3 linked regions of the Homo sapiens genome follow. The protein of the gene in region 1 purifies or fractionates together with the protein of each later gene. This does not show direct contact. Each region holds a gene or a part of one and is shown in the gene's direction. Other genes may lie near its edges.

Region 1 (3,749 bases):
GGATTACAGGCGCATACCACCATGCCCAGCTGCTTTTTGTATTTTTAGTAGAGACTGGGTTTCACCATGTTGGTAAGGCTGGTCTCGAACTTCTGACCTCGTGATCCGCTCGCCTCGGTCTCCCAAAGTGTTGGGATTACAGGCATGAGCCACTGCACCTGGAGCTTTTTTATTGAGTACCTGCACTGATGAATAAGATAGTGCCTCCTTCTAAGCAATTTACAGATTAGTGGGAACCCAGGAGGCGGAGGTTGCAGTGAGCCAAGATCGAGCCATTGCACTCCAGCCTGGGAGATGAGAGTGAAACTGTCTCTCAAAAAAAAAAAGTATTATTATTTAGAAATTGGGTCTTGCTATGTTGCTCAGGCTAGTCTCGAACTCCTAAACTCAAGTTAGCCTCCTTCCTCAGTCTCCCAGTGCTGTAATCCCATACAGGCGTGAGCCACCACACCTAGCCTGTGTCAGCTAGTTTTTTTAAAACAGCTTTACTAAGATATAATTTACATAATCATAAGTTCCACCTATTGTAAGTACACAATTCAAGGATTTTTAGACAATTCAGAGAGTTGAGCAACCATCACACGATCTAACCCATTTTTTCAATGTTTCTGCTGTAGAAACCATTTTATTATTCTAGTACAAAAGTACATGCCAAGCCATTAAAATTGTACAGCAAGTATTAAGGATGCAAAGTGACTCACTGAAAATGTATGTAATGGACTTGCACAGACAACTGCTCTACTGACACAGAAAGAAAGAGAGGGAGGGTGGCTAGAGCCAGTACAGTACAAAGCAATGGTTATCAGCTAGGCCCTAGAGTTAGACTGCTGGGGTTCAGATGCTGGCATCCCTACTTACTTAACTGCTGTCTGGCCTCAGGCATATTACTTGAACTCTCTGAGCCTCAGTTTACTCATCTGAAAGAGAACAGCACCCTACTTTATGGGGTTATGAAGAATAAATGAAATACTATATGCAAGAGGTTCAGTAGAGTCCTGGCACATAGTAAGGACTCAAGAACTATTAGCTGTTTTTACAGTTATCACTGGATGACTATTAAATAGCCTTTCATGAGCCAGACATGGAAGACCACATGCTCTAATTAAATTTATATGAAATTCTAGAGAAGGCAAATCGATGTTGATAGCAGATCAGTGATTGACAGAGGCTAGGGAGCGGAGGTAGGAAATTGACAGCAAAGGGTCACAGAAAACTTTTCAGGATGTTCTATATTATGACTGGGATGCTTTGTAAACACTTGTCACTGAATCACACATTTAACTTGGTGCATTTTTCTGTATGTAAAGTAAATCTGACCTCTCTCCCCCAAACTCTTAAAGATCTAGCTTTTAATTTTCCAGTTATTTTACATGTCAGAAGCAAGGTTCAGTTTCTAAACTCAGCCAACAAATATCTGTTGAGCACCTACGATGTGCAAGACACTGTTCTGGGTGTTGGGGATACAGTCTTGAAGAGGACAGATAGCATCCTACCCCCATGGAGTTTATAGTTCAAGCACGAATTATACACCTATGTTTGGAGTTACAAAATACAGGATGCTATGGGGAGAATACACTGTCCGGGTAGGGGGAAGTAGAGGAGTTCCAATATGTATAAATCTCTGTCCCGCGTTTTTTTCTATTTTTTGAACACAGAAGCAAGCAGAGTCCTTCCACCTACAGTCCAGGTGGGTGGTGTGTCAGAGGCCTCTCGGGGACCAGTGACCGTGACCCAAGGCTGCCCTCAGGCCACACCATCTGCGAGATGCGGTGGCCACCTGGCGAGGGAAAAGGACTGGCACCGGACCAAAGACCAGGTGGATGCTTCCACGGACCCCAGGTGGGGCGCTGCTTTGACCTTGGCTTCGTCATGCCCGCGCTCTCTAGCTTCTTTCCAGGTGTGCCCAGCCACCGCAGAGAACAGGCGGCAGGAAAGCTTAGGAAACCCTCCCAGAGGGCGTGCCAGACCGGGAAACTTTATCTGGGAGGTGACTCCACCCACTTGGGCGGGGCTGCCGCCCGCTGGGGGCCGGGCAAGTGGCCCGGCCAGCGGCGCGGCGTCCGGGGAGGAAATGGATGCTGTGCTGGCCTGCCGGCTCCGGGGGCGGGGAAATCGAGTAGCTGCACTCAGGCCCCGCCCGAGACCCGGAGGGAGCGCCGGGCCGTCCCCTTTTGCCCTCCTTTGCGCTGGGCTGAGCCCAGAGCCGAGAGCAGGAGTCGGCTCTGAGTTCCCTGCTTGGTTTTTGGGTGGCAGCAGCCAGAGGAGGAATATGGCGCTCTTAGGCAGCCGAGCGGAGCTGGAAGCGGACGAGGTACGATCCGATGGGGATTGCGGGCCCGGCCCCTGAAGCCCTGGACAGGAGTCCGGGAGAGAAGAGTGAGCCCGGCTAGGACGGCCGAGGCCCCGCCCCCTTGGTCCCCTCTCTGGGGTGGGCTGGCGGGCGCCGGGTGGGGGCGCCCGGCCTTGGTAGGTCTGTCCCCGCTGGAGCTAGGAGGGTCCCTGCGGCGCGCGGAGCGGACGCAGTGCCGAGGTTCGGAGCGCCGGCCCCGCGAGTCGTGGGGATGGAGGACCCACGTCCTGCCAGCACTTGGATGGGCGTGAGGGCGCGGGACCATAGGACCCGCAGCTCTGAGCTGTTCCGGGCCGGCCCAGCGACGCCTGGGCTTTACGAAGTCTGACCCTGAAGTCCTGGCACTGGCTCTCTGGGTGTTCGTGGAATCATCCCTCGACCTGGGAATCTCACCTTCTATGGAAGTTTCCTGGTGGCAGAACCGAAAGGCTTACGATTGATGAAAAGAGGGGGCAGCCTGAGGAACAATGAGTAGAGGGGTACCTGCCGCGACAGCAGGGCAGGGCTGCCAGGGGCTGGGGCTGGAGGGCTAGAGCCGCAGCCCAGGCTGTGGTGCTTCCCTCTCCCTCCACGGGGCCGGGACACTTCCCCTAGCAGGTCCTCAGAGTCGGTGGTGGCCGGAGGGAAACCACTTTGAGAACCGACTCCGGCCTCCTTTGGTTTCAACTGTGTTTGAGTAATTAGCCACTCCTTCAGTCGTGGCGCGCCCGGGCCTGAGCACCCAGGGGCTAGCGCGCCGGACCTGTTGATTTATTGACTATTCATTTCAGCACCTGGCAACTCCAGAGACAGCGCTCTCCCTGCTCTTGAAGTTGAGACCGAGGCTCCAGCAGCAGCCAGCACCCACAGCTGCTGTTCCTGCCATCTTACCTGACTTGAATTGTGCGAGTCGCTGCCTTTAGAAGGCTTTGGTTTCAAATGATGCAATAGTGGACGATCTGGAGGAGGCGGTTAAGTTTCCCGTCCATCTCTTTAGTGCCAGGAATCTCCTGACAAGGAAGACTATACTTTAAATGTGCTCCGTAAAATAAACAAAAAACAAAAACTGAACTACAGCTCCTCTGCATGACAGAGAGACAAGAGGGCAAGCCGGGCTGTCCAGACCCTTGCTTACAGCCTGTCCCTTGCATTGAGGATCCCAAGACTGTAGAATGAAATATTTGAATCCCGATCTGTTTGTAGGAGATTTGCTGTGCTTAGAACTATGTAATTCTCTAGATTAGGGCATTGTTGAGGCGGTGCTATTATTAATTAACACTGGGATAATAGGTGTAAACTGGGACTGTTTCGGAGATACTTTGACAAATGGTCACCCCAGCTATGCTCACTGCCTACTAGATGAACGGTTGAGATGCATTAGCCGATGAGGAGGGAAGTTAGGTTTCTGTGGGTGAAACTC
Region 2 (3,749 bases), on another chromosome or scaffold:
AGGTAATTTTGATATTTTACTTAGTTGGTTTCTTTTGTTTTTAGAGACAGGGTCTTGCTCTGTAGCCCAGGCTGGACTGCACTGGAACTCCTGGGCTCAAGCAATCCTCCTGCCTCAGCCTCCAAGTAGCTGGGACTACTACAGGCACTCACCACCATTCCTGGCTAATTTTTAGTTTAGTTTTGTAGAAAGTAAGACTAAATACACTGGATCATTCAGAATGTCAGAAAGTAATGTTTTCCTCAGTTTATTTTTTCTTAATAGCACACACCATGTTATTGGTTTGTGTTTTGTTAGTGCTTGTAACTAGAGTGCAACTTAATTAACAATTTGCTCCTCCTCATGAGGTTCATGGCAGTATAGACTTAAATTCTAGTCCCATGTTTGTCATTTATTAGCTGTGTGCTAAGACTTGGTTTTCCTATCAGCAGAATTGCTATGTATATCTAGGGTATGTTAGGGTTCAAACCAGGAACCCTCTTGTAAGTGAAGGTGGGGGGAGCTATTGGTAATTTTTTGTCAGAATTGGCATACTAATTTATTACTACATTACTAATGTATCATTACCTCATCTATTTCAGTGTTTATGGGCCAAGTGAATATACTTCACTAAAAGCAGTTTTACTGTAAATCACTAACAAGTATTAATTAAGGTTATGAAGAGGACTTACCAGCACCTTGCATTGGATTTTTTTTGAAGTAACAGTTCTCAAACAAGAGAGCTAGCACTATTCCCAATTGAGCAAAATGGGACTATTAAGACTGATGTAAAACAAAAATATTTTGTTAGTTCATAATACGTACTAAATTGAGGGGATTTCAGATAATTGACACCTGCAGAGGCATAGTCACAACAGATTCCTATCATTTAAGAACTGTACTTCTTGTTGAAAATAAGGGAGTGTTAGCCATTTTGGTCCTTTTTTGCATCATCTAATGGACATGAGAAGTGTCGTGGACCCTATTGGAAACAGCATGATTGGGTTAGGAATTTGCATAGGATGAGTTCAGTGGTGAGACTTTTGAAACTACACACATCTACCTTGTTTTAGTCCTATTTTCAAAATTTTGGCATTGTGAGATTTTATTTACTGTGTGAACCTAAAGTTACTGTTTAAGTACATGCCACGCAACTCTGTGTTATTAAGAAGCACTGTCTCAGAAGCTGTGTGTAAATTTAATATTAAGGCACTAAAGACCAAGCATAGGTACATGCCTGTAGTCCCAGCTACATGGGAAGCTGAGGTGGGAGGATTGCTTGAGCCCAGGAGTTCAAGACCACCTTGGGCAACATAGTGAGACCTTGTCTACAAAAATAAAAGAAGCTGAGCATGGTGGCTTGAGCCTGTGGTCTCAGCTACTCCCTTGAGCCCAGGATGTCAGGGCTGCAGTGAGCCATGATCTGTGCTACTGCACTCTAGCCTGGGCAGCAGAACAAGACCCTGTCTCAAAAAAAAAAAAAATTTTTTTTTTTAAGTTAAGGCATTAAAATATTTGTCACAAATCTCAAGATTTCTACTTGACATAGAAGCCATGAGAGAAATAAACATTGTAATGACATATATCGTTGAACTAGGTGTGATGTTAGCTGTTGATGCTGTAATTGCTGAACTTAAAAAGCAGTCTAAACCTGTGACCACCCCTGAAGAAATTGCACAGGTAAGGACTTAACATGTTACACGTTTTTTAAAAAAAATTTAATGGCATGTGTGATTTTTTTTTTCCCTTGATCACACCAATGTCAGAATAACAATACTACCCAATCATCAATATTAGAATCATTGTTTCTTACTGCTAAAACCTTTGAAAAGAATTATGACCATAATGGTTGTCATTTAGTTCTACATGTGGTTGTCATTTTAGTTCTACATGGCTGTAAAATGGATTCATATGATTGTGAAAATGTTCTTAGCCATTGTCAAAGGTGCATAAGTTTTGTCAGTTTGTAATGAAGTCAGCATTTTTAAACTTTTTGTTACAAGAATAGTTTTATGTATCATATTCTTCAAAACAATGTAGTCAAATAATGAATCGGAAAAGAGCAAAGAACCAGTACTTCATGAAAACTACCATAACGTAAATTCCCCTTCTCTCCCCTGGATGGAAGTATCAATTTGGAAGTTACTAGGAAAAGGTAAGGGAACTGACTGAGGACACTAGGCTTACCTTTTAATTTCGAAGAGTAACTGGATTATTTCAGGTTGCTACGATTTCTGCAAACGGAGACAAAGAAATTGGCAATATCATCTCTGATGCAATGAAAAAAGTTGGAAGAAAGGGTGTCATCACAGTAAAGGCAAGTGTGTTTGTATTTTTAAAGATAATTTTGAGTTATCTTATGATCAAAAGTTTGAGTTATCTGATGATCAAAACTGAATTTTTCAAACAGAAAAATTCTGTTTTAAAAACTGCTTTTTTTATTCCTTCATATGTAGTCTCAGCACATGTATAGAATAAAGTACTTACTGTGTTTTATGTGAATTAGCCTTTGCTGCATGAAATGAATCCATCCTAACTTAAATGATTATTCAAATAAGCACTTTTGGGATTTTTTGCAGAAGTGTAATTGGATGTCCTGGGCTGTTTCATACTCTACCCTGCATCTCTTATGGCCAGAGGGGTCTGTTTTTATTAATCTGGCCTGTAATTCCATGTTTTGTGTTCAATGAAATCCATATACCTAATTCTTTGACTTTTCATAGGATGGAAAAACACTGAATGATGAATTAGAAATTATTGAAGGCATGAAGTTTGATCGAGGCTATATTTCTCCATACTTTATTAATACATCAAAAGGTAAGAACAAATCAATAACTGAATTATTATTATTTTTATTATTTTAGACAGAGTCTCATTCTCTGTTGCCCCGGCTGGAGTGCAGTGGCATGATGTGGTGGCGCGTTGCTCACTGCAACCTCCGCCTTCCGGGTTCAAGTGATTCTCTTGCCTCAGTCTCCCAAGTAGCTGGGATTACAGTCACACGCCACCATGCCAGGCTGATTTTTGTATTTTTAGTAGAGATGGGGTTTCACCATGTTGGCCAGGCTGGTCTCTTAACTCCTGACCTCAGGTGATCCACCCACCTTGGCCTCCCAAAGTGCTGGGATTATAGGTATGAGGCTCTGTGCCTGGCCAATTTTTGAATTTTTTAATAGAGACAAGGTTTAGCCATGTTGGCCAGGCTGGTTTTGAATTCCTGGCCTCAAGTCATCTGCCTGCTTTGGCCTCCTGAAGTTTTTAAAATATACTTTCTAATATGTGTCAAACTATAGGTATTAGTTGGTGTCATCCTCTAAAAAATAAATGTATATATTCCAAAAGTTAATGCATATGAGAAATGAAGGAGGAAAACCAACTCACTGGTGAATTTTAAAGTGTATTGGAACCTTGGTTTCGCTTTTCATTTAAATGTATTGCAGTCATTTTTTGTATATTTTTGAAATCTTCATTATTTTTACAGGTCAGAAATGTGAATTCCAGGATGCCTATGTTCTGTTGAGTGAAAAGAAAATTTCTAGTATCCAGTCCATTGTACCTGCTCTTGAAATTGCCAATGCTCACCGTAAGCCTTTGGTCATAATCGCTGAAGATGTTGATGGAGAAGCTCTAAGTACACTCGTCTTGAATAGGTAATAAGCAGTGGTATTTGTTGATTTATATTTCTCGGTGAAAGACAGAATTATTTGTATTGCTGTTTGCAGTTTCCATCATGTGTACCTCCACATTTGATCCAGTTGGGTTTGTATCTA
Region 3 (3,749 bases), on another chromosome or scaffold:
GGTATAAGAGCTGAGACTGGGTCCCCATCCTCATGGAGCTTATAATGTAGTGCAGGGGTGGTCAAACTCTGTAAAGGACCAGATAGTAAATATCTGGGGCTTTGCGAACCATATGATCTCTGTTACAACTACTCAATTGTGCCATCAAAGCACAAATATAGCCATAGACAATATGTAAAGAAGTAAGCATGGATGTCTTCCAATAAAGTTTTATTCAAACTGAAGTCTGAATTTCATGTAATTTTTACGTGTCACAAAATGTTGTTTTTTACCATTAAAAATATAAAAACAAGCTGGGTGTGGTGGCTCACTCCTGTAATCCTGGCACTTTGGAAGGCCGAGGTGGGAGGATCGCTTTGAGTTCAGGAGTTCGAGACCAGCCTGGGTGACATGGCAAAACCCCATCTCCACAAAAAATGCAAAAATGAACCAGGCGTGGTGGCAGGCACCTGTGGTCCCAGCTACTCCGGAGGCTGAGGCCTGAGGCTCGCTTGAGCCAAGCCAGGAAGCAGAGGTTGCAGTGAGCACCACTGCACTCCAGCCTGGGTGACAGAGCAGGACCCTGTCTCAAAAAACAAAATCAAAACCAAAAACAAAAACCCCAAAACCTCCAAAAAAACAAAAACAGTAAAAGCCATTCTTGTTGGTCATCCAAAACATGCTGGTGGACAGTATTTGGCCTGCAAGCTATAGTTTGCCTACTCCTGGTCTAGTGGGACAGGCATAAAACACAGTGACCTATTAGAAAGCAGACAGCATTTACTTACCAGTGGGAGGGAGGGGAAGTGACCAGTAAGGGCACAGAGGACTCCTGGGATACTGGCCATGTTTTATTTCTTGATCTGGGTGGTGGTTATATGGTTACACCTTGTGATATATTGTCAAGTTGTACACTCATGATTTGTGCACTTTTCTGTATGTTATTATTGAATTTAAAATCTCATTAAAAACGACAACCAGTGTAGTAAGTCATGATGGGATAAGGTCAGATGCTGTGGAATGAGAGGCCTTTAACTCCTTGGAACTTGGGAGGGGACGGGTCAGAGAAAAGGCTTCTCCAAGGAAGTAATATTTGACAAGAGGGCCCATGGGGAAAAGGAAGAGGGGTTAGGCTTATTGGGTCAGCTGTGACTACGGATCCTGTCCTTATTTTTAAAAACATTTTGATCATAGACTTTTTGCATTACTTTTGACCTTTTAAAACGTTGCAGTATTATATTTATCTTGATTACTGAGTGTTTTGGAGCCCCCTTAAATTCTGAACCCGAGGGGAGTACCTCAACTCTGGTCCCGGCTCGGCTGCACGGGGGTCGGACGCTCTGTCCTTAGTACCATACGTAAGCCACTGCCCCGCCCCGCTTTTCTTCACCTATGTAATGGGAAAGGAGGTGAGGTGGGACGAGCTTTCCAGGGTTTAATATTCTCCCTGGCCCGGCAAAGACGGGGATTTGAGGGGTTACATCGGCACAACACCCGGGGTCGAAGAAGGAGGCTGCTGGGCTCCGGGAAGGAGCTCCCTCGCCCCAGACTTCCGCACTCTGGTTATTTCCCAACGGCGGGAAGGCTCGCTTGGAGCCGGACTCGTGATTGGCTAGGACGAAGTCACGTGGGAGGATTCGCAATCAAATGGCAAGGGCGTCTGCGTCATCAGTGAGCGACGAGAGCCTCCCGAGAGGGGCGCGGCTAAGTAAAATAAGCTCCTTTCTTAGTGGCTGTTTCCTTGGGGAGGGACTGAAACAGCGATGGGGATTCGCTCTCTTCCAACCCTAGGCTTCCGGGATTTGGAGGGAAGGTGAGGCCTGGGGAGAAATGTATTAAATCGCGTATACCCCGGATGCTCCGAGGGGCGGGGCTTCGACGGTGGGGCGTAGTTAAGGGCGGGTCTCTCTTTTGGGGGCGGGATTCTCTCGGGAGTCGGGGTGGAGCCGCAAGGCTCCGCTTTCCCGGAGCGCAGGGGGCGGGGTTTGGGGCGGGGCCTCGCTTGTGGGCGGGCCCGGGCAGGAGCGGGCTTGCCCTGCGGAGCAGTAGCTAGGAACAGATCCACTTGCAGGTTGCTGCTCCCAGCCATGGCTTCGCGCTGCTGGCGCTGGTGGGGCTGGTCGGCGTGGCCTCGGACCCGGCTGCCTCCCGCCGGGAGCACCCCGAGTAGGAGCAGGGCGCCTTTGGGGCTGGATGGGAGCGCGGGGAGGCCTGCGAGCGCTGAGTAGGGGTCGGAGCAGAGCTGGGGCAGGGCTGGAGAAGGGTGAGACTGAAGGGGTGTCTTCCTGCTGGCGAGATCCCGGTGGTGTACGGGGGTGGGCGGAGATCTGTGCGTGAGATGTGAGGCTTCTAGGGTTAGAGACGGAGGTCAACAAAGGTGAAAAGGAGAGACTTTGAGATCTACAGGTGTGAGACGGGGTGAATGGAGGATGATACGGAGGTCTGTGGGGCGAGAGGAAAGTCTGAGTCGAAACAGGGATCTGTAGGAATAAGACGGGTCTATATGGGCAATATAGCGTTTTGTGGAGAGAGAGAGGGGTTAGAGGAGGGACACCGTGGGGAGACCCACGGGGGCGAGATTGGGATGATATGGAGGCCGTTGGAAGGATGTGGGATTCTAGCCGATTGGATAGGGAATGAAGTGTTGTTGGGCAGGCCATTGGCAGTGGTGTAGTAGGTTCATGGGTGAGATGTGGGCTCTGGATGAACCCACAGCCTTTGGGGGTTCAGATGAAGTAAGAGACCCTGCAAATGCCAAAGCCTTGAGGAACAAGAGAAGGAGGATGCAGGTGAGGGTGAAGCTTGGGAAGTTCCAGCTTCTGTTGGATATTCAGGTTGGTTTGGGACTGGGGAGAGAAGTTAATTTTGACCTTTTCCCTCTCCTCTGCCTGGCCCCAGGCTTCTGCCACCATTTCTCCACACAGGAGAAGACCCCCCAGATCTGTGTGGTGGGCAGTGGCCCAGCTGGCTTCTACACGGCCCAACACCTGCTAAAGGTAAGCCACTTACTCATAGTCCATCATTCACCTGCTGCTCCAGTCCTAAGGGCAAGCCTCACCCGCTTTGGGTTTTAAGAGCACTCCTGGTTGCCTTATGGGGAAGGGGCTCCCAGCCATCTGGCCTGGACACTTCCCACTTGCTTCCTCACCTACACCTGAGGCTCCCCTCCCCTCCCGTCCTCAGTGTGACAGGGGTGTAAAACGCACATTGGTGGTGAGTGGTCAGTGGCAGGTGGTCAGCTTTGCCTCCCTGGCCAAGCACTCCAGGGGGCTTATGTAGACCTGCAAAATGACTTTGTCCTCCTTCATCTTCCCTCCTCTCTCGTCTATCTTCACTCTATCCCAAACATCCTACATCTCGAGGCTACCCACCTCCTCCGCTTTCTGTAACTTTACCTGCCTTGCCATGCCCTCCTCACCCATAGCTCCAGTCCTCCGTGCCATTCTGTTCTTTCAGCCTGCCCTCTGCCCCTCCCCCTTCCCCTGTGAAGGCCAGGATCTCAAGGCTTTCAGTGTCTGCCTCGGCAGGAAGGGCCCCAAGCCAAGGCTACAGGTTCTACTTGAGACTCCACATCAGACTTTGGGACAGAGTAGAGAGGGGATACCCAGGTTAACTGAGACGTGAGACAGTTGCCTAGCTTTGGAGAGGCTTGGAGTGTCCGTGGAGAGACAAGAGAAAGGATGAATATCTTAATTATACACACACACACAGATGCTTGAAATGTAGGGTGACCAACTGGCCTGGACTGCCCAGGACAAGGGGCTTCAGCG

The links.
Region 2: the proteins of TTC39B (region 1) and HSPD1 purify together in Homo sapiens (affinity purification with mass spectrometry; 3 studies listed by BioGRID and IntAct, with this or other methods). This does not show direct contact.
Region 3: the proteins of TTC39B (region 1) and FDXR purify together in Homo sapiens (affinity purification with mass spectrometry; 3 studies listed by BioGRID and IntAct, with this or other methods). This does not show direct contact.

Annotation. Positions count from the first base shown.
Region 1 is NC_000009.12:15,305,646-15,309,394, reverse strand, and holds the start of TTC39B (tetratricopeptide repeat protein 39B), read left to right. Parts: upstream 1-2,178; 5' UTR 2,179-2,269; coding exon 2,270-2,311; intron 2,312-3,749. UniProt on the Homo sapiens protein: Regulates high density lipoprotein (HDL) cholesterol metabolism by promoting the ubiquitination and degradation of the oxysterols receptors LXR (NR1H2 and NR1H3).
Region 2 is NC_000002.12:197,493,204-197,496,952, reverse strand, and holds part of HSPD1 (60 kDa heat shock protein, mitochondrial), read left to right. Parts: intron 1-1,576; coding exon 1,577-1,659; intron 1,660-2,200; coding exon 2,201-2,296; intron 2,297-2,702; coding exon 2,703-2,796; intron 2,797-3,460; coding exon 3,461-3,629; intron 3,630-3,749. UniProt on the Homo sapiens protein: Chaperonin implicated in mitochondrial protein import and macromolecular assembly. Together with Hsp10, facilitates the correct folding of imported proteins.
Region 3 is NC_000017.11:74,871,262-74,875,010, reverse strand, and holds the start of FDXR (NADPH:adrenodoxin oxidoreductase, mitochondrial isoform 1 precursor), read left to right. Parts: upstream 1-2,016; 5' UTR 2,017-2,066; coding exon 2,067-2,145; exon of another isoform or gene 2,146-2,242; intron 2,243-2,694; coding exon of another isoform or gene 2,695-2,813; intron 2,814-2,877; coding exon 2,878-2,975; intron 2,976-3,749. UniProt on the Homo sapiens protein: Serves as the first electron transfer protein in all the mitochondrial P450 systems including cholesterol side chain cleavage in all steroidogenic tissues, steroid 11-beta hydroxylation in the adrenal cortex, 25-OH-vitamin D3-24 hydroxylation in the kidney, and sterol C-27 hydroxylation in the liver.